3 linked regions of the Homo sapiens genome follow. The protein of the gene in region 1 purifies or fractionates together with the protein of each later gene. This does not show direct contact. Each region holds a gene or a part of one and is shown on either strand. Other genes may lie near its edges.

Region 1 (3,652 bases):
TTACACAGGTGATATTGTTATATATACATATATTGTTTCAGGTTTTGCTTCTTCATTTCCTGTTACTTTTTTTTGTTTCTCCATCATTTGCCTGTTTGTACCCACAGTGATGTTCTGGTATTACACCAGAGTGTCCTCAAGTCAGTGAGGTAAAACAGAAAGGCACGGACTTGTCCCATTGCCTATGGCTGGGGACCCCACTTTCTGTAGTCTTAGCTTTTTTTCTGTTAGTATAAATACAGTATAAATCTCTATTTATATCACTCTTCTTTATTATTTGGTTTCTCTTCACAGTCCAATGACAACTTTGGTCTTTAATTTTTTTAAAGTGCCTGGAGCCAGGTGAGGAAGCTCAAGTCAGGGAGCTATGGTTTTGCTTTGGTTTGGTTTTTCCCAGGGATGAAACCTTTTGAGAGTTTGTTTTTGTTTTATTTTGTTTTGAATGATGGTAGCATTAAGAGTCCATGCAGCATCAGCCATTGTTTCCATTTACATTGAGTGAAAGAAGAGCCCTGCCCCCTCCAGTTCCCAACAAGCTTCAACCCCTGGGCTCTTTCCTCTCACACCTGTGTCTTCCCCCAAGGCCATCATATCTACAGAAAATATTTGCCCTTTGTACCTTTTCCTGTGGTTCCTTATTTTCTTCAGTAATCCTATATAGAAGACCATTGTCAGTGGCTTTTGAAAATTTCCAGTAGGTGGTTTGCCAGGTTAAAGACTTAAACACTTAAAACAGCTTGTTTTTTCTTCATAGAAGGGAAACTGATTTTCCCTCAACAGATTGCGCTTGTCTAAACACGTACTTTTCCCTCTTGGGACTCTTTATCTCCTACCTTCATGCTGAGATCCCCAGGCCATGTTTGTGAAGCTATTTTGGTGACAGGTATTTTTCCTGGACCTTTAGATCTCCTGCTTGTCTCTCCTACACACGGGTTTATATTAATTGTTTGATCTTTCACCATCGTGACTAGAATCTATATGTTCAGTTTGGACCTAGTCCTGTGTCCAACAGCACTAAGCTTTTCTGAAAAGGAGTTCATGATCTTCCCTTTCAAAAATATGCTCCATTTTATTTTTCCCCAAGACATCAACATTCTTATTCTCCATTCCAGCAGCTAGACTCTGGCATTTCAGAGGTACTCAACAAATTTTTTATCGAGTGAGTGAATTATTTTTCTATATGTATGTTTCCTGTGTTTTATATACCATTAAGGCTACTGTTTTATTGCTATATTCTTCTCAGTTACCATAGCCAGACCCTTAACCATCCTCACTTTGACTGTTTCAGTGCCTGCTTTCTTTACTATTTGCTTCCAGCTTTCCCTACCTCATCCTGCCCTACACAGCAAGAACGCTCTTCCGTAAACATTAGAGAGATTGCATTATTTATTGTTGAGCCTCAAGGTTTGTTGCCATTTAGTTTCTTGCTATCTCCATTCACCCATTTATCTTTTTCTCCTAAACATTGCATAAAATTCTGATTTAAGCTAGAAAGCAGAGCTGTTTACCAGCCCACACACCAGCTCTCCATTCTACCTTTGAGCACCTTATGCTCATCTCCTCCCTTGAACCAAGTTGTGTTCTGCCCCCCTTTCAGCTTGTGACCAAAGACTAACTTCCATAAATTTCTCAGACTAACCCCACATGCTCACACACAATCTTAGTTAACTCCAGTAATAGTCTGCTTTAGAGCAAGAGCAGTGACAACACAGCCCTATTCCATTTTGTCTAATACACTTTCACTCACTCACCAAATATTTAAGGGCCTACTATGGCCAGGCCCTGAATCAGATCCTAGAATACAGAGATATTTTAGAAATTGCTGGGGCACAGCGGTGTGCATCTTTAGTCCCAGTTACTCAGGAGGCTGAGGTGGGAGGATCACTTGAGAGTAGGAGTTCAAGTCCAGCGTGGACAACAGAGTAAGACCCTCTCTATAAAAAAAGAAAAGAAATTAATGGATAATCACTGATTCCCCCAGTATCCCTCTAAAATAGATACATTAATTTTCTTAATTTTGTAAATGGATGAGATTTTGGAATTTGGTAGCTCTTTGAGGATTAAAGTACTTTTGCAAGAAGTCTTGAACATTCTTAAATAAATCTTTCAGATTATTGTAATTTTTTTTATCTCTACAAAAATTGGGGCCAGGTGCAGTGGATCACACCTGTAATCCCATCACTTGAGGCCAGGAGTTTGAGACCAGCCTGGCCAACATGGCGAAACCCTGTCTCTACTAAAAATACAAAAATTAGCTGCGTGTGCCTGTAATCCTAGCTACTTGGAAAGCTGAGGCATGAGAACTGCTTGAACCCAGGAGGTGGAGGTTGCAGTGAGCAGACATTATGCCACTGCATTACGGCCTGAGCGACAGAATGAGACCCTGTCTCAAAAAAAAAAAAAAAAAAAAAAGAATTGGATAGCACCCAGATATGTGTATTTCATTCTAATCTTCTAATCTGTGTGGGGCCCCAGAAACCTAAAGTTTAACTCCCCTGCTCTTAGCGTCTTTTGTATACTGGGAAGTTTAGCGTTTTTCTCCCTCATGCATTTTCCATCTATTTAATCCTTTTAGATTTTGGTGACCAATTTGGATTTCCATGATGAGCAGAAGCGCCGGAACCTCAATGGAACACTTCATGAACTCCTTAGAATGAACATTGTCCCCATTGTCAACACAAATGATGCTGTTGTCCCCCCAGCTGAGCCCAACAGTGACCTGCAGGGGGTAAATGTGGGTAAAGTATTTCTAAGGGTTTAGCATGCTGGAGACACTAACACCATGCTATGCTGCATGCACTAACACCAGAAGTTTGGCATAAACAAGATGGAAAAGTTGTGAGAGAAACTTGTCATGGAGCAGTGACTGCATAAGCTCTTCTGAACTCGTGGTTGCATTCAACAGGGTGAGGTGCTATAGTCACTGAAGATGGTGCGATGAGCATGGCTTGTATATTTCAGTGGCTAGAAGACTGCATGTTTGGAAAAAGGATTGCCAGTAGACAGTGTGTTCTGCAGACAGAAGGGGCCTGCAAGAGCCGTCATCTACATATTTGGGTTCATTGGTTTTGCCTGATCCTAGCTTGGTTTTGCCTGAGCTTGGCTGTGTTCTTCCATGAATTTCTTTTTGGACTGCTTAGCTCACTCACTTATGACTTTTTAATCTGCATTCTAGGTTATTAGTGTTAAAGATAATGATAGCCTGGCTGCCCGACTGGCTGTGGAAATGAAAACTGATCTCTTGATTGTTCTTTCAGATGTAGAAGGTACAAAGTAATGCTTTTTTCCTTTATCTGCCCTTTGTTTTAAATGCTACATATGTGAGCACATGAGTTTCCCTCTTTCTTTGAGTCCCTCTGATGTTTTTTTGCTATAGATCATTAGCCATATGTTCTGACAAAGGGCTTTTATGACTCAAAACAGGGTGGGTGAGTCTAAGAGATGTCATTTGAATCCTGAAATGTTACTTCCAGGTGCTTTCAGTTGTTTTCCTTAAATAACAGCTTTATGGAGATGTAATTCACATACCATACAATTCACTTATTTGAAGTTTACAATTCTGTCCTGGCGTGGTGGCTCACACCTATAATCCCAACACTTTGGGAGGCCAAAGCGGGAGGATCACTTGAGCCCAGGAATTCAAGATCAACCT
Region 2 (3,652 bases), on another chromosome or scaffold:
ACAAAATATTTTACTGAGGCAGGCTTGAAAGAGCTTTCAGAATATGTTCGGAATCAGCAAACCATCGGAGCTCGTAAGGAGCTCCAGAAAGAACTTCAAGAACAGATGTCCCGTGGTGATCCATTTAAGGATGTAAGTTTTTGTTTAAACCGTCTTTTTATGGCTAAGCTTCTGGCATAGAGATTTTCACTAATTTGAGGAACTTACTTCACCAGGATGAGATTGAGTTAATAGTAACAGGATGTTATACTGGAACTTTGCCTCATTCTTTTGCATATGCTTCTTCAGTGCCTGACTGAGGCCCAGAAATACAAGAGACTGGAGCTCAGGGCACCTTTCAGTTGTAAAGGTCTCTTTTTATATGTGGTACACATGTGGTTGCCAGTTGCATGGAAAAGGAGTTGTTAGTTTTTGTTAAAGGTCTAAACTTGATGTGTGAAGTATGTACATAATCAAAACTGACTTCTGTTACTAAATTTGGATTCATTTGCAGATAATTTTATATGTCAAGGAGGAGATGAAAAAAAACAACATCCCAGAGCCAGTTGTCATCGGAATAGTCTGGTCAAGTGTAATGAGCACTGTGGAATGGAACAAAAAAGAGGAGCTTGTAGCAGAGCAAGCCATCAAGCACTTGAAGGTATTAGAACTATGCCTTGACAAAACAAACTATTCTGCTTTCACGTGGTGATAAGTGAACTGTGACTATATTTTTCTAAGAGGATTTATCACATCCTGTGGTTCCTAGGGATGGCCCACCAGTAAATAAACAAATAGTAACATTAGCTATTGATGATAATGCTCTGAATTGGGCTGTGGTTCACAGGTTAAAAACAAGAATATGGCCTGGCCAGGCACAATGGCTCACGCCTGTAAACCCAGCACTTTGGGAGGCAAGGGCAGGAGGATTGCTTGAGCTCAGTTTAAGACGTGCCTGGGCAACATAGTGAGACCTCATCTCTACTAAAAATCACAAAAAATAGCCAGTCGTGGTGGCGCATGCCTGTAGTCCCAACTACTCAGGAGGCTGAGGCAGAGGATCTCTTGAGCCCTGGAGATCAAGACTGCAGTGAGCTTATGATGGCTTTGTCAGACAAAGCCTGGGTGACAGGGTGAGATCCTGCCTCAAAAAAAAGAACATGATGAAAAGGAACTTCAGCTTGTAATTAGATGTTTGCTTTTGAAGGGGGTATTGGAAAATAGGAATTTTTCCCCCCCTCTAAAATACTAATATTGTTTGACATTTACTTGGACTACTTGGTATAGTATTGTTTATTTTACTTAGCTACTTAGATTTTCTGCTTTTTTTTTTTTCTCTTGAGACAGTCTCACTCTGTCACCCAGGCTGGAGTGCAGTGATGTGATCTCAGCTCACTGCAGCCTCCATCTCCTGGGTTCAAGCAGTTCTGCCTCCTCGGCCTCCCAAGTAGTGCCTGGCTAATTTTTGTATTTTTAGTAGAGACGAGCTTTTACCATATTGGCCAGGCTGGTCTCGAACTCCTGACCTCAAGTGATCCACCCGCCTCGGCCTCCCAAAGTGCTGGGATTACAGACGTGAGCCACTGTGCCCAGCCTATTTTTTAAATTTCTGGTAAATAAGTTATAGTTTGCAGTGATTATAAAAGATGAGTTAAGTTCTATATTGTCTGTATTGTAGGAGTTTTGTAATGGATGGTTATTTGTAATGAATGACTAAATCTTTTCTCTGTTCCTTTAAAAGCAATACAGCCCTCTACTTGCTGCCTTTACTACTCAAGGTCAGTCTGAGCTGACTCTGTTACTGAAGATTCAGGAGTATTGCTATGACAACATTCATTTCATGAAAGCCTTCCAGAAAATAGTGGTGCTTTTTTATAAAGGTAATTTAGATTTTGAATTTTGTAAATAACACTTAATAAAAACCCTTATAAACACAAAATTATCCAAATGATGAGTTATCTGGACATCAGCTCCCTGAAATATTTTACTTCTAGTTATGAGTCACCTCTGATTAAATTGGGTGCTTTTTAGTGCACTGATACTTGTTTAAAACATCTAAACCCTATTCACAAGTTGAAGTATGAAATCTAAAGCCATCATTATGCGTCCTCAAACTTGCCTCCTATACTCTTAACCAGGTATACATTCCCAAAGTTCAGCTAGGTGTGGTGGCTCATACTTGTGACCCCAACACTTTGGGAGCCTGAGGCTGGAGGATCGCTTGAGCCCAAGAGTTCAAGACCGGCCTGGACTGCATAAGGAGACCTCATCTCTACAAAAAAAATAAAAAATTAGGCAGGGAATGGTGGCGCAAGCCTGTAGTCCCAGCAACTCAGAAGGCTGAGGTAGGAGGATCACTTGAGCCTAGGAGGTCAAGGCTGCAGTGAACCATGATTGTGCCACTGCACTCCAGCAGCCTAGGCAACAAGTGAGACCCTGTTTCAAAAAAAAAAAATCCCCAAGTCCCTTTTCCAGACAGTCTGTAGTCTTAGCTATGTAGTCATAGCTCTGGAGTCTTCAGCCTGTGTGAATCCTGCTTCTGTTCATCTTACTCCCCCACCCAGTGTTGACTTTCCGTAGTCCTTCAAGACCAGTTCAGAGTGCTTCTATAGCAACCCCAATTTCAGTTATATTGTTCCCTTTTCTCCTGATCCCAATTTTAGAAACCTGGTCTAAAGTGGCTAGTAAAGACAAGACCTCTGTTGGGAGAAAATCCATTGCAGTTGGTCATAACACTTTGAAATTCTGCACTAATCAGACCAGTCTTGATCCCGTTGAGTGTAGTTGGTATGCGCACATGTATTATTATCTTCCATTTCTCATGGATGTTTTTAGCTTTTCAGCAGTTTGTTTGCTAAGCAGGCATTTGCACATTAGGTGGTGGTTCTAACGCTGAGTAGAGTATATTAAAACTCCCTTAATGCAATGAGTTTTCTTTCCAGCTGAAGTCCTGAGCGAGGAGCCCATTTTGAAGTGGTATAAAGATGCACATGTTGCAAAGGGGAAGAGTGTTTTCCTTGAGCAAATGAAAAAGTTTGTAGAATGGCTCAAAAATGCTGAAGAAGGTAAGGATTTTCCTTTGTGTGGTTTGTTTGGTAAAGCTAATTTTAATGTGGCCATAATATATCTTCACACATGCTTCCTTCTTTCTGATGCCATTTTGTACCTGGAGTAGAGATTTTTGTTATAAGGCAGGTGGCGAAAGCTAGAGTTTAATTATTATAGTATATTTATGGCTCAGCCATAATAGTAAATGTTCTTCATGAAATGGAAAATTTTGAGAATATTTAATGTTTATAAATTTGTGGATTTCTTTTCTTTTTTTTTTTAATTAAAAATATAGAGACAGAGTCTCACTATGTTGCCGATGCTGGTCTTGAACTCCTGGGCTCAAACAACCTTCCTGCCTCAGCCTCACAAAGTACAGGGATTGCAGATGTGATTGCACCCAGCCAAATGTTGGGATTTCCAAGTGAATGCTTTTGAATATCTGCCTCATGTAAATAGGTTATTAATAAAATTCGTTAACAGCTTCAAAGTTACATGGAGGCTGGGTGTGGTGGCTCACGCCTGTAATCCTAGCACTTTGGGAGGCTGAGGCGATCAGGTCATTTGAGGCCAGGAGTATGAGGCCAGCCTGGACAACATGGGAAACCCAGTCTCTACTAAAAAT
Region 3 (3,652 bases), on another chromosome or scaffold:
AGCTCATTGCAACCTCTGCCTCCTGGGTTCAAGAGATTCTCCTGCCTCAGCCTCCCAAGTAGCTGGGATTACAGGCGCCTGCCACCACAGCTGGTTAATTTTTGTGTTTTTAGTAGAGATGAGGTTTTGCCATGTTGGACAGGCTGGTCTTGAACTCCTGACCTCAGGTGATCAACCCACCTTGGCCTCCCAAAGTGCTGGGATTACGGGCATGAGCCACCATGCCCGGCCTTAACTTTTATCTTAAGTTCAGGGGTACATGTGCAGGTTTATTATATAGGTAAACTTGTGTCATGGGGGTTGTACACATTATTTAGTCACCCAGGTATTAAGTTTAGTACCCATTAGTTATTTTTCCTGATCCTCTTGAGGGAAGAGAGAGACCCTCTCATATTGTTTCATACTCAGAAAAGGAAAGAGAAGCGAAACTAAAGGCAGGTAGCCTGGTGCCTAGGAACCAGACCGGAAACCAAGGAACCAGACCCGAAATCAGGCCTGGGCGTGCCTGACCTAAGCCTGGTAGTTAAAATTCGACCCCTGACCTAGCAACTGTTGTTATCTATAGATTCCAGACATTGTATGGAAGGACATTGTGAAACCTCCCGTTAGGTTCTGTTTCACTCTGACCACCGGTGCTCGCAGCCCCTGTCACGTACCCCCTGGCTTGCTCAATCACGACCCTCTCACGCGGACCCCCTTAGAGTTGTGAGCCGTTAAAAAGGACAGAAGTTGAGCACCTGAAGAGCTCGGATTTTAAGACGCTAGCCTGCCAATGCTCCCAGCTGATTAAAGCCACTCCCTTCACTATCTTGGTGTCTGAGGGGTTTTGTCCACAGCTCGTCTTGCTACACTTGCCCTCCTCCAAACTTCCGCCCTCCAATAGGCTCCAGTATGTGTTATTCCCCTCTATGTGTCCATGTGTTCTCATCATTTAGCTCCCACTTATAAGTGAGAACACGCGGTATTTGGTTTTCTGTTCCTGCGTTTGTTTGCTAAGGATAATGGCCTCCAGCGCCATCCATGTCCCTGCAAAGAACGTAATCTCATTCTTTTTTGTGGCTGCATAGTATTCCACGGTGTATGTGTACCACACTTTCTTTGTCCAGTCTAGCATTGATGGGCATTTAGGTTGAATCATGTCTTTCCTATGGTGAATAGTGCTGTGATGTGTCTTTATAACAGAATGGTTTACATTCCTTTGGGTATATACCCAGTAATGGGATTGCTGGGTGGAATGGTATTTCTGGTTTTTGGTCTTTGAGAAATTGCTGCACTGTCCTCCACGATGGTTTAACTAATTTACACTCCCACCAACAGTGTATAAGTGATCCTTTTTCTTTGCAACCTCGCCAGATCTCGGTGGTCAACTCCTCCCACTCCCCAGGCAATGCTGATTTGCTCTGTGCCTATAGTTTTGCCTTTCCCAGGATGCTGCGGGAATGGGATCATACGGCCTTTTGGATCTGGCTCCTTTTAGTTAGACTGATACATTTGAGACAGGTCCCTATTGTTGTGTGTATCAGTAGTTGGTTTCTTCTTTTTTTGAGATGGATTCTCAGTCTGTGGTCCAGGCTGGAGTGCAGCGGCATGACCTCAGCTCACTGCAAACTCCGCCTCCCTGGTTCAAGTGATTATCCTGCCTCAGCCTCCCAAGTAGCTGGGATTACAGGCACATGCCACCACGCCCGGCTAGTTTTTGTATTTTTTCGTAGAGATGGGATTTCACCATGTTGGAGAGGCTGGTCTTGAACTCCTGACCTCGTGATCTGCCCACCTTGGCCTCCCAAAGTGCTGGAATTACGGCGTGAGCCATGGTGCCCAGCCTGCATCACAGGTTGTTTACCCAATACTCACCAGTTGCAGAATTCAAATCCATTTTTTAAAAAATCAGCCTGAAAAAAAAAGAAAAAAATCAGTCTGGCCAGGCACGGTGGCTCACGCCTGTAATCCCAGCACTTTGGGAGGCCAAGGCGGGAGGATCACCTGAGGTCAGGAGTTTGAGAGCAGCCTGGCCAAAATGGCAAAACCCTGTCTCTACTAAAAATACAAAAATTAGCTGGGCGTGGTGGCGGGCACCTGTAATCCCAGCTACTTGGGAGGCTGAGGCAGAAGAATCCCTGGAACCCGCGGGACGGAGGTTGCAGTGAGGTGACATCAGGCCACTTCACTCCAGCCTGGGCAAAAGAGTGAAGCTCTGCATCAAAAAAAAAAAAAAAAAAAAAAAAAAAAAATCAGGGTGGGCACAGTGGCTCACTCCTGTAATCCCAGGACTTTGAGAGGCTGAGGTGCGAGGATTGCTTAAGCCTGGGAGTTCAAGACGAGGCTGGGGAATATAGTGAGACCCCCATCTCTACAACAAAAAATATACAAAAATTAGCCGGGCATGGTTGGTGTGCGCCTGTAGTCCCAGTTCCTTGGGAAGCTGAGGCGAGAGGATTGCTTAAGCCTGGGCAGTTGAGGCTGCAGTGAGCCATGATCGTGCCACTGCACTGCACCTAGTTTGAATGGAGTGGGAGTGGGGGATTAGGCTCTCCTCCCTGCCGTTTGCTCCCAGGCCTTTTCCGTAGCTGGATGTGACCAACAGAGACAGTGCCCAGCCTCAGTATAGCTAGCTCTTAGTGGAGGGACAGGAGCCATCTGGGGCAGATGTGGGAGAGAATGTGGCGAAGGAGAGCCGGGTGCAGTCAAGGAGGCTTGTGGCTCGGAGGGGAGGTGGGGTGAGTGAGTGGAGACTCAGCAGCTTGGCTTTGGGGAAGTAGACAAGAGAGGGCCCTCTTTGGAGAGCGGAGCAAGCCAGGATGTCTGGCCTTCACTTCCACTTGGAACAGAAGTGTGCTGTGTGCGCGTGCTTGTGCGTGTGCGTGCACGTGTGTGCGCGCTAAATCAAACACCCTCGCTGGCTCTGTGTTCCCCTCAAGGGGAAGCCAACTCCACGGATGGCGGGGGTCCATTAGGCTGCAGGTCTTCTCCCTGCCGATAGATGGCGCTGTTGCACCGCGCCTGGGTTTGCCTCTGCCCGCAGCCATGCAGGGCCCATCACGGGCTATGCCTACCGCGCGAGGGGCCTTCACCATGTCCACTATCCTTATTTATTTATTTATTTATTTATTTATTTATTTTTTAAGTGTGGGTACTGGCCGGGCGCGGTGGCTCACGCCTGTAATCCCAGCACTTTGGGAGGCCGAGGCGGGCGGATCACGAAGTCAGGAGATTGAGACCATCCCAGCTAACACGGTGAAACCCCGTCTCTACTAAAAACACAAAAAAATTAGCCAGGCGTGGTGGTGGGCGCCTGTAGTCCCAGCTACTCGGGAGGCTGGGGCAGGAGAATGGCGTGAACCCGGGAGGCGGAGCTTGCCGTGAGCCGAGATCGCGCCACTGCAACAGAACGAGACTATCTCCAAAAAAAAAAAAAAAGTGTGGGTATATAGTAGGTGTATATATTTATGGGGTGCACATTGATAAAGGCATGCAATGCATAATAATCACATCATGGGCTAGATGCGGTGGCTGACGCCGAGATCGCGCCTCTGCAGTCGCCAGGCCACTGCAGGCGCCACAGTGGCGACAGAGCGAGACTCCGTCTCAAAAAAACAAATAAATAAATAAATCAGGTTAGGCCGGGCGCAGTGGCTCACGCCTGTAATCCCAG

What was found.
Region 2: the proteins of ALDH18A1 (region 1) and BZW1 fractionate together in Homo sapiens (co-fractionation; one large-scale study listed by BioGRID). This does not show direct contact.
Region 3: the proteins of ALDH18A1 (region 1) and QPRT fractionate together in Homo sapiens (co-fractionation; one large-scale study listed by BioGRID). This does not show direct contact.

What each region holds. Positions count from the first base shown.
Region 1 is NC_000010.11:95,632,573-95,636,224, reverse strand, and holds part of ALDH18A1 (delta-1-pyrroline-5-carboxylate synthase), read left to right. Parts: intron 1-2,575; coding exon 2,576-2,734; intron 2,735-3,175; coding exon 3,176-3,266; intron 3,267-3,652. UniProt on the Homo sapiens protein: Bifunctional enzyme that converts glutamate to glutamate 5-semialdehyde, an intermediate in the biosynthesis of proline, ornithine and arginine.
Region 2 is NC_000002.12:200,818,262-200,821,913, forward strand, and holds part of BZW1 (eIF5-mimic protein 2), read left to right. Parts: coding exon 1-132; intron 133-493; coding exon 494-640; intron 641-1,720; coding exon 1,721-1,859; intron 1,860-2,921; coding exon 2,922-3,044; intron 3,045-3,652. UniProt on the Homo sapiens protein: Translation initiation regulator which represses repeat-associated non-AUG (RAN) initiated translation probably by acting as a competitive inhibitor of eukaryotic translation initiation factor 5 (EIF5) function.
Region 3 is NC_000016.10:29,689,164-29,692,815, forward strand, and holds part of QPRT (nicotinate-nucleotide pyrophosphorylase [carboxylating]), read left to right. Parts: intron 1-3,652. UniProt on the Homo sapiens protein: Involved in the catabolism of quinolinic acid (QA).